Linked DNA regions of Homo sapiens: region 2 is linked to region 1. Evidence: fine-mapped expression QTL. A gene starts in region 1. The other region holds a variant in brackets. All regions are shown on one strand. Distances are between the middles of the regions. Region 1 holds the start of BAHCC1 (BAH domain and coiled-coil containing 1). Region 2 overlaps BAIAP2 (BAR/IMD domain containing adaptor protein 2).

The links. PIP is the estimated chance that this variant, and not a neighbour inherited with it, causes the effect.
Region 2: its variant is fine-mapped to the expression of BAHCC1 in anterior cingulate cortex (GTEx, PIP above 0.99).

What each region holds. Positions count from the first base shown.
Region 1 is chr17:81,387,658-81,402,965 of GRCh38, forward strand. BAHCC1 (BAH domain and coiled-coil containing 1) reads left to right here and starts at 7,800. Exons shown (of 28, transcript NM_001377448.1): 1 at 7,800-7,978; 2 at 11,877-12,260. The coding sequence starts at 12,083. It overlaps MIR4740 (microRNA 4740), which reads right to left and starts at 13,121; the gene lies at 13,059-13,121. RefSeq lists enhancers at 286-845, 846-1,405, 5,897-6,454, 8,538-9,146, 9,147-9,755 and 4 more and a silencer at 6,243-6,512.
Region 2 is chr17:81,064,237-81,072,236 of GRCh38, forward strand. All of the region lies in intron 3 of BAIAP2 (BAR/IMD domain containing adaptor protein 2), which reads left to right. Among named protein-coding and RNA genes, the nearest start is that of BAIAP2, 33 kb to the left of the region's middle. RefSeq lists an enhancer at 308-914. The variant C/G (reference allele first, on the strand shown) is at 3,663.

The DNA of each region.
Region 1 (15,308 bases):
GATGTAGAGGCTTTGATTTTTTTACCACCCGCCTCAGGAGACTTTTTGCTTGGAAAAGTCCTGCTATTAAAACAAAAACAAAAACCAATCAATTCCGGAGGGAAGAAAATGCCTCCAGTGTGTGTCTGCGCTTCCCCCGGGCCGAGGACGGTGGTCGGGGCTGCGTATTGCCCGGACCCCGGGTAGGGGAGGCGCAGAGACCCGGCCCTAATGGACTTCGCTCGGAAAGGCCCCGGCGGAAGTGGCCGGGAGAGCGGGCGGCTGCGTGGGTCTGGGCCCTGGCCCGGGGCAGGCTCCTCTGGCCTGCCTGCCTTGGCTGCTTGGAAAGGGATTTCTGGGGAGTCTCCCTTTGGGGGCACTTTCCCCGAAACTCCTCTCCCGCCTGGGGAATTACCCCTGCAGCGGGTACTGATGCTTCATGAATTGAGATGGAATACGTATTTGTTCAGGCCAGAAAAAAAAAATGAATCTATTGAATGATTTTTAATTTAATGGATCAACTGTCCTGTTAACAAAAGAGGCGGTGGCCGTGTTTGGCGCCAGGCGGGAGGCAGCAGTCAGGTGGTCCAGGGGCTGGAGGTGAGGGCTTTGCCGCAGGCGCATGCTGCTCTGTGAGAACTCCGAGGAATAACTCACTGGAGGGCTATAAATGCTGAAGGTAACCAGGCCAAGGACTCCAGTGCCCCCAGAAGTCGCAGGGGAGAGACAGTCTGTCCCCTCTGGTCCAGCCCAGGGAGGGCCTGCAGCCTCCCCATGGGAGCCATGGCCAAGGGGGAGAAAGGTCTCCAGGGCTGGAGGGCAGGTGGGCGGTGGGGCTCATCTCAGGGGCAGGGCGTGGGGGTTTGTGGGCCAGGACCCACCCAAGGGCTGGGTCTGGGAGGTGCTTGGGGAGCCCAGGGCGACCTGGTGTGTGCCCTGCGGGATGCCCCGAGGGCTCCTGCTTGTGTTGCCAGCACCTGCCCTTGGGAGCCGTCAGCTGGGGCCACGATGCTGGCAGGGTGAGGCCTGGCAGGGTCTGGGGCTTTTGGAGGGTGGGGGCTAAGGGAACCCCTGGTGGAAGCTGCCTTCAGGGTTCCTGCCTGCCTTGAGGATGGGTGATAAGGGGCTGGGCCCTGCCCTCCTGCTGCCTGGGCTCTGTAACTGATGCTCAGAGGACCGGGTGGAGTTGGGTGGGAGACCTAAATGCTCCACGGTCCTGTAGGTCTCAGCTGGCCTGGCCCCGCCACCCAGCCCACACCCTTCCCCTAGGGCCCTCTCACCAGTGTGAGAATAGGCCTGGGGAAGTCTGGGCCCGGGAGGCCCCCGACCCCCACTGTCCAGACACCCTGACAGCGACACGTGTAAACACCGCCAAACAGTGGAGACAGGCAGCCCTGCCGCCCCTCCGCCTCTGCAGCCAGGCCTGGTCTGGCAGGGAGTGGAGGCAGGTGTCCTTGCAGGGAGGGCCCGAAGCCAGGCTCTGCCTTGGAGGATGCTCCGGAAGGACCACATAAGCAGTGCCCTCGTTTGGATTGGTCCTGCCTGAGCATTGTCCCCAAGCAGGGCAGTTTCAGCCACTAGGCCCTCCCAACCCCCATCTGTCTGATCTGGGCTTTCTCTCCCGGGTCTGGCTTCCTGTCCTCATCCTCATGGGCAGGAAGACGGAGGGCTGTTTCGGGTCAACCTCCTGTAAGGAAAACCGATTACTCTTTATTCCAGCAGATCCCCAAAGCGCATCCCTTGGCCCAGAGATTCCCAGAGAACCCTGCCCCTCCAGGTCCACCCCCAGACTGGCTGCCTGGGGGGAAGGAGCCGGCCTTTAGGGAAGGCAGCCTGGCATGGTGGAGGTTCCCTGGGCTCCTGGGCCTTTCTCCAGCCCTCCAGCCGCAGAGGTGACAGTGACCAGGGGGCTGGAGGGGCAGCAGGACAATGGTGAGTGGAGGGGGGCTGGGAGGCTCCCTCCTCAGCCTGGGGGTCCCTGGCAACTCCCACCTTCCTTGATCCCCTCTAATAATTGCAACAATAACACTGTCACTAATAAAAAGGCAGGGGAAACCAGGCAAAGGGGCGCTTCTGCCCTTTATGAAAATCACTTTAATTTAACCCAGATGGGTCTTGTTGATAACCTCATACAATGAGCACCCTGAATTATACTTTCCGTGAGAACACACTAGTTATATTTAGCCACAAATTACGACTCTGTGTTTAACAAGCAACTTTGAGAGTGGGGAGGGGGCCGGGCAGCCTCCTGACCTGGTTGGACAAAACCGGCAACTGCAGCAATGGAGACCCCCTCGCTGGAGGGGACGCCGAGAAAGCCGTGCCACGGGCTTCTGAGTCTCTCTTCTCTGCTGCTCTAGTTTCTTTAAAACACTTACAACCTCGTCCGAGGTCTGTCGAGGAGACTGTGGCCTTCAGGTACAACCTGAGCCTCCCCCAGGATCCCTGGGACTTCTGCCTTCCCACACCCCCAACCTGGCTCCCTGCTTGGGCTGGAGCCGGGGACCTTCTGGGAGAGCCCAGTTCGACAGGCTGGGGGGCTGGGGGCCGTGTGTGCCTGGAGGACAATCCTCCTACCCAGGTCTGGCCCCTGACAAGTCTTGCTCCTCTGTGGCCTGCCTCAGCCCCCTTACCCTGGGCCTCAGCCCAGGCCTGGTCGGGAGGGGGCAGGCGCTGGGGACGAGGGTGAGGGCACTCCCTCCATGCAGCCCCCTCCCCTGCCACCTCATCCCCTGGGTCCTGATAAATAATGAAGGGGCTGTGACTGGAAGCTTCGTTTTCAGTGGGGGCAGCCCCCTTCCCTTCGGAACCTTCGCCGTCCTCTTCCCCTCCACAACAGTTCTGCTCCTAGGAAGGGTAAGCCTCCAAAGGCAGAAGCTGTGGCAGAGAAAAGGCTGTCCCCCCACTCCAAGGCACGGACCCTGGGGCTTCCCGATCCTCCCCAGAGCCAGAGGCCACACCGCTGAGCAGGGGAGGTGAGGGGGGAACACACAGACCTTTCCCCCACACCCTGTTCCCTCCAGGCACCAGGCAAGGCCCTCATGAAAAGAACTCGCCCCAGTCGATAGCAGAGGGACCCGTACAGGCAGATGGGTGGGGTGGGGGGTCAGGACCTCTTCCAGGAGGGAGTGGGATTGTTCCTAACCCCCTGCCCCCAGCTGTCCTCTGGAACACTGATTCTGGGGTGGGGGTGAGCTGCTGCTGCCCTCCAGTTGAGGGAGGTCTCTGTGCTGTGAACCATCTTAGATCCCCCACCTCTACCCCACCTCTACCCCGCCTACCCCTCCTGCCGCCAGCCCCAGCCTCAGGCCTGGCCTCTGGACTTGTCCCCCTGCGCCTCTGGTGGGAAGAATTAAGAGTCAATTTTTGTCGTCAAGAAATTGTTTCTAATTTGCCCTTTGACTAATGGCCCAGGGAACAATGGAGAGATACCCAACACACGATTATTGGGGGCGCAGCGGGCGCAGCGCGGCTGCTCTCGGGCCGAAGCAGGCATTTATTTGGAGCAGCGGCTAATTCACAATTTCATGGAACTTGCCTGACACCCCCACCCCCTTGTATTAAAAAATGATTATTTATATGATGATTTCAGACAGAGCAGCATCTCAGAGGTTTGGGAGCCGGGAGACCTACATCTGCTGCTCTTGGGGAGCGTGGGGGTGGGAGAGGAGTGCTGGAGGGGGCTCCAGGGCTGGGCCCGGTTGTGGGGGAACAGGGGCCCCTAGGCTGAAAGGGAGAAGGCAGTTCTCGGGAGTGCTTCTGCGTGTGTGATATGCCTCTGCACACATGTCTTGTGCATGTGGGAGTGTCACATGCTGCACGAGGCTCACCTGTCTGCCCATCTGTGCTGTGGGTTTGGTTTTGTGTACACTTCCAAGTGATTCACATGTGGGCACATGAGTGTGTGCAGGCAGATGTGTGGGCACACATTCAAGACTGTGCACAAGTGTGTGTGTGAATATAGTGTGCGTTAAAGGGTGATGTGAGCCGGCCTGCTAGGTGTAGGAGCGCAGCTGGTTATGTGGGGCGGGGGGTTATCTGCTCCCCAGGCCAGAGGGCAAATCTGGAGTGGTGTATGCCAGGCCCATGGAAGTGACTCCAGATCCTGCTGGAGAGGGATCAAGGTGGGGTTCAAGGCCACTCCTGGCACTGTTCCAGGCCCCACTGGGTGTCCACAGGCCTAGCCTCACTTGCAGCCCGCTCACCTGCAAAGCTGCAGGAACTTCAGAGACCTGGGCCCTCCAGCATCAACACTGACCTCGGGTCTATTATCCCCTCTCCTTTCCTCCCCCTCTGTCCCCTCGCTGGCCCTCTCCCCAGTGGAAGGCAAGTCTGCAGATCCCCACACCATGTTCCTCTGAAATTAAAAACATTTGTTAGCTCTGGACAGCAGGAAGAGTAAAAAAGGAAAGTAGGGAGGTTTCCTCTGAGCAGATCGCCAGCCTGAGCTCCCGGCGGCCCAAGTCTTCCAGGGGAACTCGGGAGCTTATTTTGGTATTGCGGGAGCTGCCCAGCGGCCAGGCGCCTGTGCTGGGCAGCTGCCAGCCCCTCTCCACCGCGTCCAGCAGACCCGTCTGCAGTTATTTGCTGTAACAACTGTTTTGAAACAGTATTGAAAAAAAAAAAGCCCACTAGAATTTGCTTCAAGTGAACACTGGGGGAGGAGGAGGCAGAAGTGGGGAGGAAGGAGGAGGGCAGGGAGCTTCCGCACTGCCCTGGAAGGCGCACTCGACGCCTCGGGGCCTTTGCCCACGCGAGCAGCCTCTTTCGGGGACACGAAGGGACCAGCACTTGGGGGATTTGAAGCCAGTGCTCATCCTAGGAATCTGGTGAGGCTGAGCCAGAAGGGTCTAAACCAGCTTGAGGAGATAGGGGCCACGCACCCGCGAGCTACCCTCTGCCCTCCCATGTCCCTGGCAGTGGGCATTTCTCAAATGGTGATTGATGACTGGGGATGGGGGTGGGCAAGCCGAGGGCCCATCATTCAGGCTCCAGGACCCTCGAACAATCTGCCCACGGGGGAGGGGAGGCTGGTTTAGGGGCTCTGAGGGGCCTTTCCAGCGGCTGTCCTTCCAACACACTCTAGAGGAGACCAGGACTCCCAGGGGCTTGGGGCCTCCCGTTCCCCCACAGGGCGGTTAGAGGTGGAGCACCTGCCCTGATGCGAGGAGCTCAGAGCAACTTCTGGGACACCACGGGTGGCCACGGTGTTCTTTTTGTTGCATCCAAGATTTTTCTCGTATACGTATTTTCCTATATTAAAAAATTCAAATGAGGCTTTAAAAATTAACTTGAAAAAGGTTCCTGATCCGGAAACAGGCTCATCGGAGGCAGTGATGGGAACTCGGTTCCTTAGGAGAGTAGGAAATGCGCCGTCTGCGAGGGGCGCCCTGCGTGGACCCGGGGCCTCGGGGCGCGTCCACTTACCCGAGCCAGGAGAGACTGGGCCCCACGGTGTTAGCCCCGCGCTCGGGCTCGCGCGCCGCTTCCAGCTCGCGCCTCCTCCATCCCCGGAGGGCTCCGCGGGTCCCCGGCGACGGGTCCCTGCCCAGGGTCCGGGAACCTTCCCCTCCCCTCCTTTCTCAAGCGCCATTTCTCCGGAGCCGGGCCGGCCGTCCTCGGTGTACGCGGGAAGCGGGCAGCCTCCGCCTGCACCCGCGGGGCCGGGACCCGGAGGCACCCGCTTCCCCGACACACTCGCTGGGGCCGCTGCTCGCTGCTCCAGCCTCCCGAGGCCACGGCAAGAGCCCGGGGGTCGGCGCCACACACCCCCAGCCGGCGACCGCGCCCAGGGACCTAATTCAATCGCCCCCAGCCTAATGAATAGCCGCGCGCTAATCGGATCTCCGCGCGCTTCGGGGATTTACGCTTCCCGGCTCTCCCCCTCGTGCCCCGCGGCCCGCCAGACGTCGCTTCCGAAGGCGCCGGCCTGGGGCCTGGCCAGGGGCTCGGCCGCGGGGGGTCCCGGCCGCCGGAGCCGGGAGACGCCGGAGACGGGAGCCGGGCCCGCGCGACCGCCACTCCCGAGCCAGCCGGGGTGGGCCCCGCGCCTTGTCCTGCGTCCCCGGCCCGGCCCGCGGAGCGCCGGTGCTTACCTGCGAGCCCCGGGCTCTCCGGAGCTCCCCTCCGGGCCGAGCCGCCCGAAGCGGGCGCCGGCGTAGGCCCCGACTCAGGCAGGCGGGAAATCCCGGAGTCCCCGCCCGCGGCCCGCAGCCCCCCACCCCAGGTCGGCGTGGCCTGCGGGGGGGAAGGCCGGCCGGGGCCGGCCGCCCGCTTCCCCTTTCTCTCCAGATTCCTTTGATCCGCGGGCTCTCCGCCGCACCTCGGCTCCCGGGCTGCCCCGGTCGGCCCGCGGGGATCCTGGAAACGGTCCCCAGCTTATCTCCTTTCATCAAGCGGCCTTGGGCCGCCTTGAAACCGCGGAGCCAGTAATTGCTTTTTTCAGGAGGCCCAGTGCGGACTGGACAACAGCCAATCAGCGCCTTGTTTACACTCGGTGATGGACAGTCCACTGGCGGAGTGCCAACCAATCCCAGCGGTCCCGCGGGAGCGGGAGTGGGGGCGGGGAAACAGAGAGACAACAGGCTTTGAGTTTAACTCTTTCGTGTCCCTGCCGGAATGAGACGGTGGAGAATTTCGAATGCGTGTGAATCTGTCAGTTGGCTCCTAGTTTAAATATCCTTTTTTCCCCCAGAGGGGGAGGCAGAGATTCACATGGAGAAAGAGGAGCAAAAATAAATGTATCCATCGCCACTAAGACATCACCTCGACTCCCTGAGAATAAATAGCATTTGGGTGGGAAACCAAATTCTAACAGAAATATTTGTTTGCGGAATATTTTAGAAGTGGTTTGCATCTGATTACGATAAAAATTGTTCAGTGGCTTGCTTTAGTTGGAGTGAGGATTTAGCAGATAGGCAGACAGGGAGCAGCATTGAGAAATACTATACATGGTTTACCACACCATACCCGCTTCCCCCATTACCAAACTGAAAATATTTTCTAAATCTAGGTGTAGATGAAGAAAGGGCAATCCTTGTCTTCTCAATAAATCCCTGATTTTCATTTTAGTAGCTGCTCTGTTGCAAAGTGTGGCAGAGGGAGATAAAATTGAGAGCCAGTAATGTAGACGGCTGGAGACTCAGAACTCACTTCCCAGGGTCTGATCCCCAGGTCATGGGGAGGAGAGAGCCGGACGGGCTATTCAAAGCTTTTGCTGCCCAAGCAGCGGGCGTGCGTGCGTGCATCCGCGAGCTCGGGTCCGGGCAGGCAGCAGCTTCAGAGCGGTAGATGGGCCAGGCAACCTGGGGAGGCCTCTGGGCTTGGAGGTCTGGCCTACCTGCCACCTGCCAGACAGATTCCAGGGAGAAAAAGCAGCTACTTTTAAGGGGTGGTGGTGTTTCTTCCCTTGGCCTTCTGTGCGGCAGAAGCCAAACGTTAGACCTGCTGGATTAAACATATATGTGTGTGTGTGTGTCTGTGTCTGTGTCTACGCCTCCCCCTCCGCCGGGACACGCGCACTCGCTCGCTCCAGCTCCCTCTCCCGCCCTGCGCCACCACATTCCCATTCAGCAGCAATGATCTGCGCAGAGGAGCTGCGCAGTCGCCGGGCTTGAATTAGGCGCCATCGGGCTTGGTAGTAGCCCCGCTGCTTCCTGATTGGCAGTTCCCTGGCCCGGCGCCAGCCTATTGGGAGGCCTGTTTACGCCGAATGAGTGGCACGAGCTCCCGGCCGTGGAGGGCTGCGCGGCCAATCAGCGCGCTGGCTGTTCCGGGCTGAGTGGCACGAGCTTATTAGTATGCAGGGCCCGTGGCTCGCCGCGCCAGGCTGCAGGTTTGAGAGCCGCTCTGGATGGGCTCGCTAGAGTCGTTGTTGTGGAAGCGGTGCATTTACAGTGCAACAGTCAGCACATTGAAAATACCAATAGGAATACAAAACAAAGTCACATTTACTGATTTAATTGTATTGCATTCAGTTGTATCCAGGAAACAGCCTCCAGTAAGTAACTGAAATTGCTTTCATTTTTTTTTTGTTTTTGTATTTTTATTATTATTTTATTTTTTATTCTGGCTTTGGGGTTTTACATTTTTTTTAGCAAAAGAAATTCAGGATTGTGATGTTAAGAAGTATATATCTTCCCTTTTAACAAAATCCGTTAAAATGTTGAGGCTTTTTTTTTTCTTAAAAAATATGGACTATGAGCGATTTTTTTTTCTCTGAAAAATCTTATCGATCGGTTTAAAATTACCCCCGTAATGCATCCTTGCTTTGCTCTGAGCGCTTGTTGTCTCGATCGACACCCAGCATTAAAAACAAATACTCGAAGACAGGACAGGGACCGCCAGGCTGCGTCTGGCGCGAGCCGCGCGGGTGGCACCGGGCGGACAGTAGGCGAAGTCCGGGCGCCGCCAGCGTGCGCCCAGTTCTGGGTGACCCACGAACGAACCCCAACATTCGCTCCCCTACCCTGCTCCCCTCCCCGGAACAGTCCTGGGTTGGCCCTGCCCGGTCGGTCCGCGGCGAGGGGAACTGGCCGGGTCGTGGTACCCACGGCCGCTGCCCTGAGGGGCCTTCCGGGCCGAAGCTAGGGGCCGGGGAGGGGAATGGTCATGGCGAGTTTTTCGGGTCTTCGTTCCCAATTCAGAATTTTTTTTTTCCGGAGAAGTGGGGGTGGAGGAGGGGGACCGAGCAAGGCCGGCGCAGCGGGGCGTTTTCACCGCGCGCGTTCGGGACGGCGCGCGGGGCTCGGGTCACGGCCCGTGTGGCGGGGTCCGCGGGCTGGTTTTCTTCGGGCGCGGGGGTCAGGCGCGACCCCAGTTCTCATGACTCTCCCAGGGAGCGGGTGCGGCTGTTTCGCAGGGAGCGGGTTCTGCGGCGACGGCCGAGCCACTCGCGCCCCAAGGCGCGCCTGGTCCCAGCCCGGCCTGCAGGCCCCACCGCGCCCGCGCTCCCGGAGACGACGCCGGAGGGAGGCAGACGGGCCAGAGTCCTGGTCTCCGGCAGGCGGGCGAGGAGAGAGCGGGTTTTTAGATGCAAAAGCAGGAAACAAAGCAAACTTGTAGAAGCTCCAGATCCTGGAGCGCGCCAGCCACGCCTGGGGCCGCGGCAAGAGGGACCGGCGGCTCCAGGGTCACGCCCTGCCTTCCCGGGAGGGAGCCCTGTGCTCCTAGGTTCAGTTCCTTCCGAAATGCCCTCGTCAGCGATTCTCCGCCCGCCCGGGGCCCTCTGCCCGCCGCCACTTTTCGCTCCATTTCCTCCCTTACCTCAGCCCGACCTGGCGCTGCGGCGCCGTCCTCGCGGTCCTCCGGCGCGGCCTCTCCTGGAGCTGGGCTGGGAGTGGGCCCCGGGCCTCGGCACTCGGCGGGTGGCGGCGTCGCCGCTGCGGGACTGTGGGACTCCCAGCTCGGGCCGTGTGGCCGCCCTTCCTCGCCCCACTTCCTGGCCGCCTCAGGCTCCCCAGGCCCCCGAAGCCCGGCGCGGGCAGACGCGGAGGCGCGGCGCGGCCTCTCCCCGGGAGGAGAGAACACAAAGAAAAGCTCTCTCCAATCCGGTCAGAGCCGTGGCGGCGCAGGCAGGCGACAGTAATCCACCTCCTGTTTGCTTAAAAAGTCGAGCAGGCTGGTGAGAAAGGAACAATCGGGCCTGCGATCCGCCCGCAGGGGGTGGGAGATTAAAATTGTTGCTTCGTAGCCGAGCCCGCGTCCCGAGAATCGCCGGCAGCTCGCGCTTTCTCAACTTTGAAATTTCTTATTGGAGAGAAAAAAAAAAAAAAAAACAACCACAAAACAAAAGCACAGCACACACGACTCCCTGGAGGCCGCCAGGAAGCCTGGCACCCCCGCGTGCGCAGCCCCCGGCCCCTCTCCGGCCTTCGGCGCCTTTGAAGCTGCAGGTTTCTGACCTCCCTCCCTTTCCTTCTTTCCCTTTGTCCCGCCCGGCGCCCTCCGGGGCTCGGGAGGCGCCGGCCGGGGCTGGGGGCCCCCACGTCCCTAGTCCAGCCCGGGCAGCCCCTCCCCTGACCCCTGCGCTCGCAGCCCCCTCGCCAGAGCACTCTCCGGGCCCTGGCGGCCGGGCGCTCGCTTTGCAGGCCGGGATCGGGGCTTGGGAGCCGAGCTATTTGTTAGACCCGGGGAGAGAGCTGGCGATCCCCAGAGGGAAGGGAGCCCCAAACGCCTTTGTATGTAGTTGCCAGACAAAGAGAACTCTTTGTGTAGACCCATTTATTTACAATGCAAAAGCTCTCCGAATAAATATTAAAAAAGCTTATCAGCTGAGCAAATATGTATTCACTTAATACATTATGTTTTCGGTTATAGATTAAATCAAACACAAAATAGTCTGCAAATAAGACGTTTTAGAACCCGGACCATAAAATATCGCAATTTAAAAAGGTATTCAGTAGATGGAAAACATCTTAATCGCTTTGTTGTCATGGTGGAATGGCTACAAAAACACAAGGTTTTCCGCAAAGTTCCTAATTAGGAATATCAAGCCTATCCATCTCCCTTTTGTTGGAGGTGATAAACATTAAAACAATACGTATTTAGAAGATGAGGAGTAATATGTGAAGTGCGTCCAGGGAGCGCCTTCGGAGGGACGCCTGGGAGCACGGTGGTGCACGCAGCTTCTATCACTGGCTCCGACCCTCCGCACCCAGAGTCTAAAATTGTCCCCAATTTCGCCTGAGTGGATGCTCCGCGTTGGGTGGGGGTGGAAGAAAATGGAGGTGAGGGTTATTTTAGGTGGCCGAGGTCCGGGCAGGGTCTGCTGGCAGAAGGTTGTGCTGGGCCGGGCCCACCTTCCCCGGCTAGAGGGCCGAGCTGGGCGCCGCAGACCCCGCGTACCCAGGCCGCCCGGTACTGCCCGGAGCGGAGACCGGCCTCTGCTCGCGGTCCCCGGCAGGCGCTGAAGGAAGAAATCCCAGGGCCGATTTGGGCCGTTGAGAGAGAGCATTCTGACTCTGAAAGCACCCCCCCCACACACACCCCCAAGCCCCCAATCCGCAGAGGAAGATCCTGGGCGAATTTGATTGGGGGGCGGGGTGATTGTTACAGCCTCAACAGGAAGCTCCCGGCTCCGGGACAGCAGGCCGGGCACTGCGGCGTGGCGGCCCAGGTGATGCCGGTGGCGGTTGCGGGCCTCCGGGGCTCTGAGGAGCCGGCCTGGGGTCCTAGCGCGATGCTGGGGACAGGAGCTGGTCCCGCTGGGGCTGGGGAGGGGGGACCACGGTGGATTCAGAAGAATGGGCCGAAAGATGCATGAGGGGGATGGGAGTGGGGAGAAAAGGAAGGTTATTAAAAAAAAAAAAAACTCTTGAGTTACAATCAATAAAATTACTCGCTTAATTAGCATGGTTATTCGGTTAAGCGGAATGCAGTAAAAGCTGGACCTCGGCATGAGGTGGGGAGAGGGGGAGAGCTAGTGTGGACCCCAGGCCTTTTCCTCCGAGACACCTTTGGGCAGCGGGGGAGGGGAGAGGGTGTGCGTGTGAGTGTGTGTGTGTGTGTGTGTGTGTGCGAGTGTGCGTGATGGCTTCGCAGATTTGGGTTTTTATCACCCAGCAGAGCCAGCAGCCTCTTCGCCGCGGCGCCCTAGCTGCAGGGACCCGCGGGGACGAGAACGGGAGGCGGCGAGCAGTGCGGCTGGGTTCCCCCGGCTGCCCCGGGCCAAGCGTGGCCGGGACGGTGCGTGCGCGCGCGGGGCCCCGGGTGCTGGGCTGCGCGCGCGTGCGGCGGGGAGACACCGAGCGCCCCGGCCCCGCCACCCGGCCTGGCCGCCGCTCGCTCGGGCCGGCGGGGGTGGGGGGTGGGGGGAGTGGGTGAGCGGGCGGGGCGGGGACCCCCGGGCGAGCCGAGCCCCCCAGTCACCCGTGTCTCCTCTGCTTTTGCCTCCACAGACCATGGACCCGCACAGCGGCCGCTGGCTCGGTGCGCGGCCGCCCGCCGAGAAGCCCAGTCCTCCCGCGTGCTGACCGGCCCCGCCGCCACCACCGCCTGTGACCCCGGACGCCGCCGCCTCTGCGCCGCCCGCGCGCCGAGCCGCCCCCGGGCCCCGGCCGCGCTGCTCCGAGGAAGCGGCGGCGGACCGGGGCCGGGGCCCGGCATGGATGGCCGCGACTTTGCGCCGCCGCCGCATCTGCTGTCGGAGCGCGGGAGCCTGGGCCACCGCAGCGCCGCTGCCGCCGCGCGTCTCGCCCCGGCTGGGCCCGCCGCGCAGCCCCCCGCACACTTCCAGCCGGGAAAGTACTTCCCGTCGCCGTTGCCCATGGCTTCGCACACAGGTCAGTGCTCGGCCGGGGCGGGCGCGGGACGGGAGCGTTCGAGAGCGGAACAGGGCGCCCACCCCTCCGCTCCCGGGAGCAGAGAAGCTTTGGTTTCATTTCCCGGCCCCGGCCGCGGTGGCTGCCTGGGCGCTGAGCGGGGCCGCGCGTCCCGCCAGCCCCCCAAGCTGCGTCGCCGCGGCTTAGAGAGGCCCTTCCCTGGCCACCCTCCCCCGGGGGTCTCGGAGGGGCAGCCCCGGAGCCGGCTGAAATTAAAGCCTTTCCGCGCCTCGCCACCCTCCCCCGCCCCCTCCTGCAGATCTAAATTCCACGGAAACCTCTTTTCTGCATTCTGCATTCACCTCCCTAAGACGTTCCGGGGCTGGGACAACGAGGCGCTTTCTGCGGAAACAAAACGGCTGTTGTGGCGGGGGGAGGGGACCAGGGTACGCCGCGGCCTCGCGGATTAGAGTGGTGTGTGCGCCGGGCGAGCGTTAATAGGGACTGCTGGTGTAAGACGAGCAAATCCTGTTTCTATATAAAGCCTTAAAGTGTCAGGGCGAGAATGGGTTTGCAGGGATGCATTTGCCTTAACGAGTGCCTCTGGTATCCCGCTAAAGCCGGACAAAGCGTGGCCAGAGTGCGGCCCAGCCTCTCAGCCTGCGGCCCGGGGAGGAGGGCAGCGCGGGCGCGGGCTGGGGGTGGCGCGGGGCGGCGCTCAGGATTTCGGTGCAGGCGAGAGTGCGGCGGATTTGCTCCAAGAGGAGAGCGAGGCGGATTTGCTCCAAGAGGAGAGCGTGGGGCGCCGTGCTGGGCCTCGCAGGGACGGATCCTCTCGGGCGGTCCCCTCTGACTCCCTGCCCGAGAGGATCAGTCCTTGGCAGAGCGGGCCCAGGCCTCCAGGGCAGCCCTCTTCCCGGTGGCTTTGATATGAGTGTCGAGGGAGGTCAGGGTAGGGGCAGCTACCACGCCTGAAGCCCTAGAGGTCACCAGGCGGCGCGGGTAGATTCGGGGGAAGCGCGCAGGGCTGCGCTAGGGACCCGCCGGGTCACCCTGGTACATGGGTGGCTTTTGTTTACAGTTTGTTCTAAACATCAGAAATGTTTGTCGCTTTTAAAAACAAAATTGGCAGTAACAGTTATTATTGGTAGCTTGATGAACTGTGAATACTAATAAAATTATATCTGCTTTAATGGGATTACAATTAGTGTGTGGATTAAAACGGATGGCAGAGACGGGGCTAGAAAGGAAAACGTCGGAAAAAGGGAGGGCACTCAAAGAAAAACGTACATTTTCTAGAAAAAAACAAACTTGAAATTGCTTAATTGCTAACGGGCTTCCAGCATTTGCAGCGCCAGGAGATTGGAATGGGGGAGCCGCCCAGTGGAGGGGTCTCCCCAGCACTTCCCGGGTTGGCCCACACCCGCTTCCCTCCCTGCCTGGGCCTTTGGCGAGGCTGCCCTTTTCTCTCTGTTGCCCTTCCTTCTTTTTCTCCCTTTCTTTTTTCTCCTCTAGATTTGTAACTGGAAAGAGAAGGAGAAAAAGCACTTGCCTGAGCGATGGGTGATTTAAAAATATCTCTTCTGCTGTCCCTGTGGTTATCAAGCTTGTCTTCCTGCCCCTGCATGGGAGCTGCTGCCCACCCGGCTCAGGTGCACGGGGCGCTGAGGCTGGGGCCGCCCTGGCAGAAGGGACAGCTCGCCAGCCTCCCCACCAGCCCCTCTTCTGGCTGAAGGCTGGTGGCCCCCACTGGGGGTAGGGGGATTGTGTGCACCCCACCTCCACTGTACCGTGCCCTCCAGCCTGGCAAGTAACAGCACGACAGAGACAGGGGCCCCTGACACTGAGGCTTGCATGTTGGTGCACAGGCAGGCTGGGGCTGTCCCCTCCGGGAGGCAAGGCCAAATTCCCCATCAGGTCAGGTCAGCACTCTCCCTGACCCCATGCCCCAGCTCACATCCTGGCCAGGTCCAGGCCAGCTGCATTCTCCCCCTTCTGCCCTTACTTCCAGGTCTAGGCAGCACCCGGGTAGGTGGGCGCCTGGTCGGGTGGCCTAGCCCTTTGTCTTGCTCATTCTAAGTTTGGCCACGTGGTTCTTGGCGTGTAGGCCCCGGAGGGCTGTGAGAAACGGCTCTGGGCTCTGGCCTGGCCTGTGTCCTCCCTGCTTCTTCTTGATCCCAGGTCCTCCCAGCCTCCCCAAGCGCAGGGTGCTCTAGAGGGCGCTGGAGGCCCCTCGGGGCTGCCTCTTTCAGGGTCTGAAGGGTCATGTGTCCCCGTCCCTGGAGGCCCCATTTCCTCCCCCCTGCGGACCGAAGAGAACGCTTGTGCTCGGAGATGTTCAACCCATTTGTGATGGGCAACTTGGTCATGCAGACATCCAGCTAGAAGCATCTGTAGCTGAAAGAAAGCCTTTTGAAATTGTTAAGAGCCAGAATATTGTATTGGTTTTTAAAATTTAGCTGCATGTATTTTTTTAAAAAAAGAATTATACCCCAGATCACTTTGCTTTGGTCTGTGTCTATATATGATCTAGTTTAGAGAGAAAAAAGCATAATTACGTTAAACAATTTTTTTGCGTCTTGTGTGCGGACTTCCACATGGCTGGTTTGGCTGCCTTGCTTCCCATTTTCCTGGATGGCTTCAGTCCGCAGGCCACAGCTGCAGCCAGCCCGCCCCTCCCTCTGCTGACTGCCCCTTGGAAAGGAAAATTGACCCGGATTCTTCCCGCCTGTCTGGGAGTAGAATCCAACCATCGGGGATGGAGGCCCTGGCCTCCATGAGGCTGCCTCTTTTTGCTGGGCTGCTCTTCCTGTGCCTGTCTGGCCTGGCACTGCCACCCCGGCTGGACTGAGGCTGTTCCTGCTGGCTGCCGGGGCTGCCTTTCCCCAACCCCACCCAACACTTTCAGAATGTCAGTCTGAGGGGCCCTGATGGGTGGGGACATGGGGCTCCCAGGCTTCTTCCATTGTTTTTCTAAAAATGAAAGTGCTGGGAGCTTTAGACTCGGGCCGCAGGTTTTATGGTAAAGTGCTGTTCCAGTAACCTTGTCACCAAAAGGTGCAATTAAAA
Region 2 (8,000 bases), 330 kb before region 1:
TCCTGTGGGTCTCTCTGTACCTGCACCTCTGGCCCTGTAGTGCCCACAGCCGGGGAGGTGGCCTCGGGCTATGTAGCCCTCACGGGGAGGTCCTGTCTTCAGCCCCGTCAGGATGACGAGGATTCGGCTGCACTGACTCCCGGCTAATCACTGTGGATGATGCTGCCCGCTCCCCCTTTCCCTGCAGAGCCCTGAGCTCTGTTCTTCCTGGGAAGAGTGAGGGTCCTGGCAGCACCCCCTCACTGTAGCCAAGCGTGCTGCTCCAAGTGAGCCCCAGGTCTCCGGAGCCGGGAGCCAGCCTTGGCCTGCGTGAGCTTTCATGCTTCTGAACCAGAGCCTGGCCCAGGGGTGAAAGCCCAGAGAGTCTTTTTTTGCTTTAAATGAGCAGCTGGGGCTGCCCCTTTGTTCTCTCTCCTGGAGTGAGGAGTGGCTGGGTCAGAGCCGGCCTTTGGTGATGTGGGTCTTTCTGTACCTGTGGCTCTGGCCGTCTGGCACACAGCTGGGGAGGCAGCCTCGGGCTTTGTGGCCTGCAGACCTCACAGACGGAAGGGCCTCCCGTCTTCAGTCAGAGACTGTTTTTTCCCTGCAGTGAAAGAGTTTCTGCAGTTAACTCTCAGGGCTTTGCTTTGATATGGCAAGCGCTTAGTCAGGGAATGGAGTGGCAGCTCCAAGTTCCGGAAGCTTCTCACAGCCCTTCTAATCCCCTAGCCGGCAGCCACCCACACTTGGCTGTCTGCTGGCTGACTGGTTTTCCAATCCCCGCCATGGTGTTTCTCCCTTCCAGCTCCGGCAGGCGTGATTCCGGGGCACACCCACTGCTCTCAAAGCCCCTGAGCCAGTGCCTGGGTTAGACTTTTCCCAGGGGCGTCTGCTCCTCATCCTCTTGGGCTTTGTGCTTGGGTTGACTGGCAGCTCGGGGAGACTGGAGTGGCCGGCTGGATCTGAGTCCTGTAGGCCAGTCCTGGCATGTGTAGACACTCAGTGTCCCTGTGGCCCAGGAGCAAGCCTGGCAGGTGACCCGAGGGAGGGCGGGCCCAGCCTGGTCACAGAAGCAGTGCTGTGCCCGTCCCGGCCCCCTGCAGGGGTCCAGGGTCCTGAGCTGAGAGCCTCAGGAATCTGGGGAATTTGCTAAGATGTGTGAGTGGCTCCTCCTCTGTTTTGGGCACCTCCCTGGAGGCTGGCACCACCAGGGGCTGGTGTGGAGACCCAAGGGTGGAGGGCAGGGCAGGTGCTCACCATGCCGCTGGGCCGTGTGGGTGCCTGGGTGGACGTGGCACTGGTTCTTTGTGCGGGTGGAGGACAGCTGTCCAGTCTGCCTCACCGACAGCTGTGGTTTGCAGTGTCCTGTGACTGCACTCCTGAGCACACCCCTCCACCCCCTTGCTGCTGACAGCTGCCTATGGCCCAGGCCCTCTCGCTCCCCCACCCGAGGCTGGGCGCACAGAGCTGGGCTGAGCCTGGGTCTATGCTGGCCAACGGGAGAGGCAGATGGGAGGAGCAGGCCAGAGTCCCAGTGACCTGGGGTCCTGGTACAACGTGTACACCTGGGCAGGTGGCTCTAGCACTGTGTGCCAGAACCGTCTGTATGAAAAGAGGGTCACGTAGCTGCCCTTTGGCCTGGCTGTGCAGGGAGGCTAAGGTCTAATCACCCTGTAGAGAGTTGTCGGCTCTTCAGGACGGTGCCCTGTCTTCAGTGAGGGGGGCTGTCATTGCAGTGAGCGGGGCCGCAGCCCTCCCCAGCAGAGAGCACTGCACTTCCTTTGTGTGGTCAGACCCGCATGTCCAGCCTGTCTATCTGGGGCCCTGAGCCTGTTGTGTTTCTTGTCCAACTGCTCTGTGGCCCTGCCACGGAACACCTGAGCCAGGCTGTTTTGCTCAGCCCTTTCCCATCTCTGGAGGCCTCTGGTGTGTTTTTGTCCTTTGAAGAGGCCGCTGTGTACCCGCTGGTGCCCACAGCATGCTTGTTTGTGATCACAGGGCGTGTGTGTACCTGCTGGGCGCACTGGGCCTGTCCTCTGCCAGCTGCCCGGCATCCCCAGGTGCCCGGGAGAGTGGCAGGAGCTCCCTGTTGGGCCAGCCTCAGAATGAGGATGTTAGCTGGCAGGGGGCATTGTCCCTGCCTGAAACTGTGGGCTGGATTTTGGTCACTGAGTCACTGAATTAAGGTGTGGCCTGGAAACTTCCCATAGCTGTTGGCTGCAGTGCACGCCTCGTTGTCCAGAGTGAGGCAGGTGTTCTGAATGCCCACCTGGGAGAGCTGGGGCCTGGGGCCCCCACAGGTCAGGTGGTGCCCCTCCTGTCCCCGCAGGTGTCGGCCTCCCTCTTAGAGGCACTGAGTGGCTCCCTCCGTGTGTGCGGCATCTCTGCGTCTCTGAAACGTGGGGCCCTGTGCAGAAGGGAAGGTCCTTGGTCATGTGAACCCCAAGGGGACTTCGGGGCTGTCCCCAGTGGCTCCCGTTGGCCAAAGTGGCTCGGAAGCACCATCTCATGTCACTCACCTGGTAGGGCCTCCTGCTCTCTGTGAGGCCAGGCTGTGTCACGGCCCCTCTGGGCTCAGGCGGCTCCATGCACAGTGCACCCAGGGGCCCATGTGTCCCAGCCTCCTCCTGCAGGTGGAGGCCGCAGCCTCCCTTTGGGCCAGTGACTGTGACAGCAGTGTATGGGCATGACACCTGCTTTCAGGCCCTCACGGCAGGGCCTTGCCTTGTAGGCTGCCAAGTCTTCCTGACAGACACCATTTGAAGGCCTTAATTAGATCAACCTTACATCCCCGAGGGGGCCTGACACGGAGGTCCCTGGTTGGTCCCGGACCTCCAGCACAGCGGCGCCTGCAGATGAGAGGGAAGCGAGATGCCCCTGGCCCAAGCCCAGCCTGGGGGCTTCCCTTCCAGAGCCCAACCGCTTGCTCCGACCTGCCTGTACCTCCCTTCCCCCCCACACTATTCCTCCCTCCCTACAGTAGGACTCCGGCAGGGGTGCTCCAGAGACAGCCACCTGAAGAAGCCACCAGGATGCTTGGGAAGGACGCTGCCCTGGGCCCTGCCTCCCGCCCCATGGGGATCTTTCAGGCCCCCACCGCCTGTTCGCAGAGGCGCGTGCTCCTGCTGAACTCTGTGGGGACCCTCCAGCACCTGAGCAGGGGAAGGGGGCGGGGGGGCCTCATGGTGGGCGGGTGGAGGGCCTTGTTCCCCTCTGGCTGTGGCTGGGGATGGCCCAGCCCTGCCCGCCTGCCAACAGCTTTGCGGTGCAGGCTGAGCTCTGCAGGGAGATTAGCAGCCGTCCTGATTGGATTGGCCGTGTTGCAGCCGCGGCAGCCAAGTGTGGGCCCCTGGTCTGGCTGCTCGTGGTTTGATCCTGAGCCGTTTCCTGCTGGTGATCAGTAGCTCCGAGCGTCACCCACAGAGGGGCTGCTGGAGTCTCACTCAGCAAGAGGCTCTGAGGCCCGGCCAGGTGTCCTCTGCCGGCGTTGCTGCTGCTCCCTTTGGCCCAGCATCGCAGCGGGGAGGCACCCTCCCTGAGCGCTCACGCCACAGCGTCAGGCCTCAGCCGGCCAGAGCAGGGAGGACAGCTGGTCTCTCCCCTGAGATGCCGGGGCTGCCTGTCCCCCGGTTGGGGCACAGCTGATGGCACCTGCCGTCCCTCGGTACTGTCACCAGTGCTCC[C/G]TAGGGAGGGAAAGAGAGGAGCCGCTCAGCCTTCCTCCTCAAGCCAGGAGCTGCTGAGGTGCTGGCTGCCTCCGATGTGGCCCCACACAGTGTTGGCCGCAGGCCGAGGGGCCTGGGGGCACAGGTGCCGGCTCAGGAGCCTCTGTGGGCAGGTGTCTGCATCTCTGGGGTCCTGGGGGACGTGGGTCCCATGCACTTTGGGTGGTGCCAGTTGGCAGAAGGGTGGGCACGTCAGGCCTGGCAGACACTGGTCGCAGCCACGCAGGGAGATGACGGCCGGTGCTCTCAGGGCGGCCTCTGCTCCTGTTTGCATCTTGTAGGGTTTGGAGCGAGTCAGTGGCTGAGAAACTCTCTCCCAGGAGCAATGTTCCCTCCTGGTCAATAATCAGTGAGCACAGATAGGCGAGGCTGGTTAGGAGCAGACCACGCCCATGGCAGGGGTCTCCCCCTCGGGCACGCGTGAGGAACTGGAGGTCTGAATGGCTTCTGTCCCCTGCAGAGCAGCTGTCTGAGGGGGTCTGTCCCCGGAGGCCAGGACCCTGGTCAGTGCCATCCGGGTCACGGGTGTTCTTTTGGCCCCAGCTGTAGGAGGGCAGCGATGCAGGGCCCAAACCAGAAGCCGCTCCTGAATCCCTGACCCCAGGATCAGTGTGAAACAAAGCCCACGACCCAAGGACCCCGCAGTCAGCAGCCGCACAGACGGAGCCAGCACTGGAGCCCGTCTCAGGTGGCTCCGCTCTTGTGTCCCCTGTCCCCGCTTCCCTGCCCTGGGGAGGGTGCCCCCAAGCCTGGTACTGCAGAGAAGGCCACCTCGGTGGCTCCTTGGTTGTGACATGAAGTCCTGCGGGAGGGCCTGGGGGGACTCCGGTCCCAGGGAGGTGTCTTTCTCAGGATGGGGGGCCATATCTGGTTGCCAGTGTCTCTGTCCAGCCTTGCGTTCCTGGCTGTGGGAGGTGCCAGTGGGTTCCCTTGCCCACAGTGTCTGTGACCGTTGTCCCAGACATGCTCCTGTGTGCCCGCTGCCGAGCTCCAGCTGCTCCAGGCTCCTCCACTCCCCAGTCACACATTTGACGACTTGTCTGGCACTGGGCCCCGTAGAAACAGACAGGACAGGGTCTCAGCAGCCCCAGGGGTGATCCCGGTGGCAGGGGCTGGGCTTAGAAGGATGCGCTGGGTCCTCCGGCTGTCCCCACTGTGCTTGTTTGTTTAAACGTCTGAAGGGCAAACGGCAGAGCATCAACTTCTGGTAGCTCCGAATGGTGGGTCCACGGGCATTCGTGACGGTCTCCTAGGTACAGTTTATACATTGGAAGCATTTTTGTAATTGTTACCAGCAGTCACATGCAGGCGGTCACATCACTGCAGGGCCAACTGGACTGTGTCCCGGGCAGAGACTGAACACGTGCACACACCCAGCCAGAGCACGCACGCGGGCACAGATAGTCCTGGATCCAAGTACCGAGGGGCGGCGCTCATGCCATCTCCATGGAGTGCTGGAGGGGTGACAGGGAGAGTGGCCCCTGGCAAGGTGGTCAGAGAGGCTGGGGAGTGGTCCACGGGGCGGCCGGTCTGAACTGCCCACCTGGCTTCTCGGCGGCCCCCGCTCATGCCATGGGACTCTGGGCAGCTGGGGTCCAGGGCTGGCTTCAAGGACGCCTGCTGGGAGTTCTCGAGTCTGTTCCCTGCCTCTGCAGTAGCCCCTTCCTTTTCGGGAGGTGTAGTCTGCGAGGCCCCTGGAAAAGCCTGGCGGGGGGCGTGGTTCTCCATCCATGGCAGCTCCCTCTGCCCACTCGGGGGACTCTCCCCCGCCAGGACTGTCCACTCACGAGCTCAGTCTGGCCAGTACGTTCCTAGGCAAGGTTCAGTTCGCCTCCCAGCCTTCCTCGGTGGACACCTCTGGTCTCGCCGGTCACGTGGGAGCCATGCCCAGGGCACCTTGGGAGGATGCTGTGCCGTGGGACCTGAACAGGCAGCAGAGGTGACCAGGGTCTTTGGAGATGCACTTGTTGTACCCAGGAAGATTGGAGGGTTTTTTGTTTTCTTGGTTTTTTGTTGTTGTTGTTGTCTTTTCCCCCTTTTTGGAGACAGAGTCTCACTCTGTCACTCAGGCTAGAGTGTGGTGGCGCAGTCATACATAGCTCATTGCAGCCTCCTGGGCTCAAGCGATCCTCCCACCTCAGCTTCTGAGTAGCCAGGACTACAGGTGTGTGCTGTCACGCCTGTATACTTTCTAAACTTTTTGTAGAGACAAGAGCTTGCTTTGTTGCCCAGGCTGGTCTCGAACTCCTGGACTCAAGTGATCCTCCTATCTCGGCCTCCCAAAGTGCTGGGATTACAGGCGCGAGCCACCGTGCCTGGCCAGAGGTTGGTCTTGCAAGGCAAATTTGCCCATGAAGAAAGGAACAGGCCCTGCTCCAAGCTGTGGCCTGGGTCTGCCCTCCACACTGAGCGGACGTCCAGGCAGCCTTCGGGCTGGGTATTGAATGTGCTCTGCCGGGCAACCTTGGTCACTTGTGGCCAAAAGGGAGGTGGAAATGTGGAAAGAAACCCCTCTGCCCCGTCAGACCTTAAACCTCCTTGCGGACACTGGGCAAAGGAAGAGGCAAAAGGTGCTTTGGAGGGAGGAGAGAGGCACAGGGAGGGTTGCTGCAGAGGGGTTCCTAGTGGACGCGGGGGCAGGAGAAGGCCCTGGCGTGCCTGTCCCGCTGCAGCTGTGGGAGCTGGGCTTGGCCAGGTCGCTCAACCCGTGGGGAGAAGGTGTCGGGTTAGCTCAGCCCCCGCAGAGCCTCATCTCCACCCCTGTGTGTCACGTAGGGGCCCTCTGCAGCCTCCACTCCAGCCACCCCGGGTGGATGGCCGCTGACCCGGGAGCCCCCGTCTGCCTGGGACGCTGGGAGTGTGTGAGCAGATTTGGTGCCAGAGGCCCGGGCAGGCCTGAGGGTCCTTGATCCCAGCGTGATGGTGCGTTGCTGGTCCAGGGCCCATCCTTGGAGCCGGCGGGTTGGAGTGGTGGCTCAGGACAGTGGGGGTGGATGACAGAAGGCAGCCTCGGCCTCTGCTCTCCCTCCACCCCCATGTCCAAGATCTGAATGCTGACCCAGCCTTGACACCAAGGTGGCTCTTTGGACTTGCTTGGTTTCAGAACTGTGTGTGGGGAAGCAGCGTCAGCTACCGTCATCACCATGGCAACACAGACATTGATTTTTTTTTTTTCCCCCATTGGTTACCCGCTGGCCACATTCCATTTTTGCCTTTTTTGTAGGTGGGAGAAGAACTCTGCTTCTCCCAAGGAGAAGCTGGTGGCTGGAGGGCAGCAGAGAGAAGGGGCGGGATTGGGAGTCACCCCCGAGGTGGCGTCCTTGGGCTTTGGGTCAGCACTGGATCTGGTCCCCTGGCCCCTGTGGGGGCTCTGATAGCAAGATGTCCTGTCAGCCCCCTGGCCATCTGTCCTTCCCCGTGATGAGGGCGCTCTGTTCGAGCCCTGCCCAGGTGGGTGGTGATGAGCTCTCGAGGTGCCTTTGGGCTCTGGAAGCCACCAGGATAATTGAGAGTTGTGGATAGCTACTTCAGAAGGCTCTGGAAGGTGATGCATGCTCACAGCCAGCTTGGAGCAGCTGACCTCTCGCACAGAGCCCCTCTTCCACCAGCAGAGAAAGGAGAAGAGTTCCAGTGCCTCCGGAAGCAACAGAAATATCCAGGAAACGAGTGTTTCTGTGCCCTCAGTGTCCACTGGCCAAAAAGAGCACCCTGACCACTCGGTAGCAGCGCCCGTCCGTCCCTGAGCCTCTGTTTGAGGGACTCACGTCCAGCTCCCGGCAGACTCAGCGCGGGGGTCGGATGCCTTCTCCGCACCATCCCGCACCGCCACGAGCTGCTGTGGCTCACATTCTGCCATCCGAGCTCTGTCCAGGAGGCAGCCGAGAATTGGAGCAGTTCCCACGCCAAGTAGGGCCTTGTGGGTGGCCGGTCCCCTCCTCCAGCGTGGCACGGAGGCGCCGGAGCATGCAGGTCTATGCCTCTGCAGAGTCTGGGGCATCTTGTTCCATTTCCTTGCTGCCTCTCCTCTCGTCCGTGATCATCCCCCCCTCCCCCTCTGCTTCCGGCCTCCCCGGCCTTCCCAGTCTCTTGGGCCATCATCGTGGTTGTGTTGGTCCTGTTGCTCCTCCTTCGAGCGCCCACGTAGGGCTGGGGTTCCCTGCGGGCTGTGGGTGCCGTGCCCTCCCCGGCTGGCTCCAGCCCTCAGAAGCTTGGGGAGGGTGGGCTGGGCCATCTGCATTCCACCTGCCCAAGGGCTGCCACTCCCTTTTCCCAGATGGCTGGAGTGCCCCAGGGCAGCGT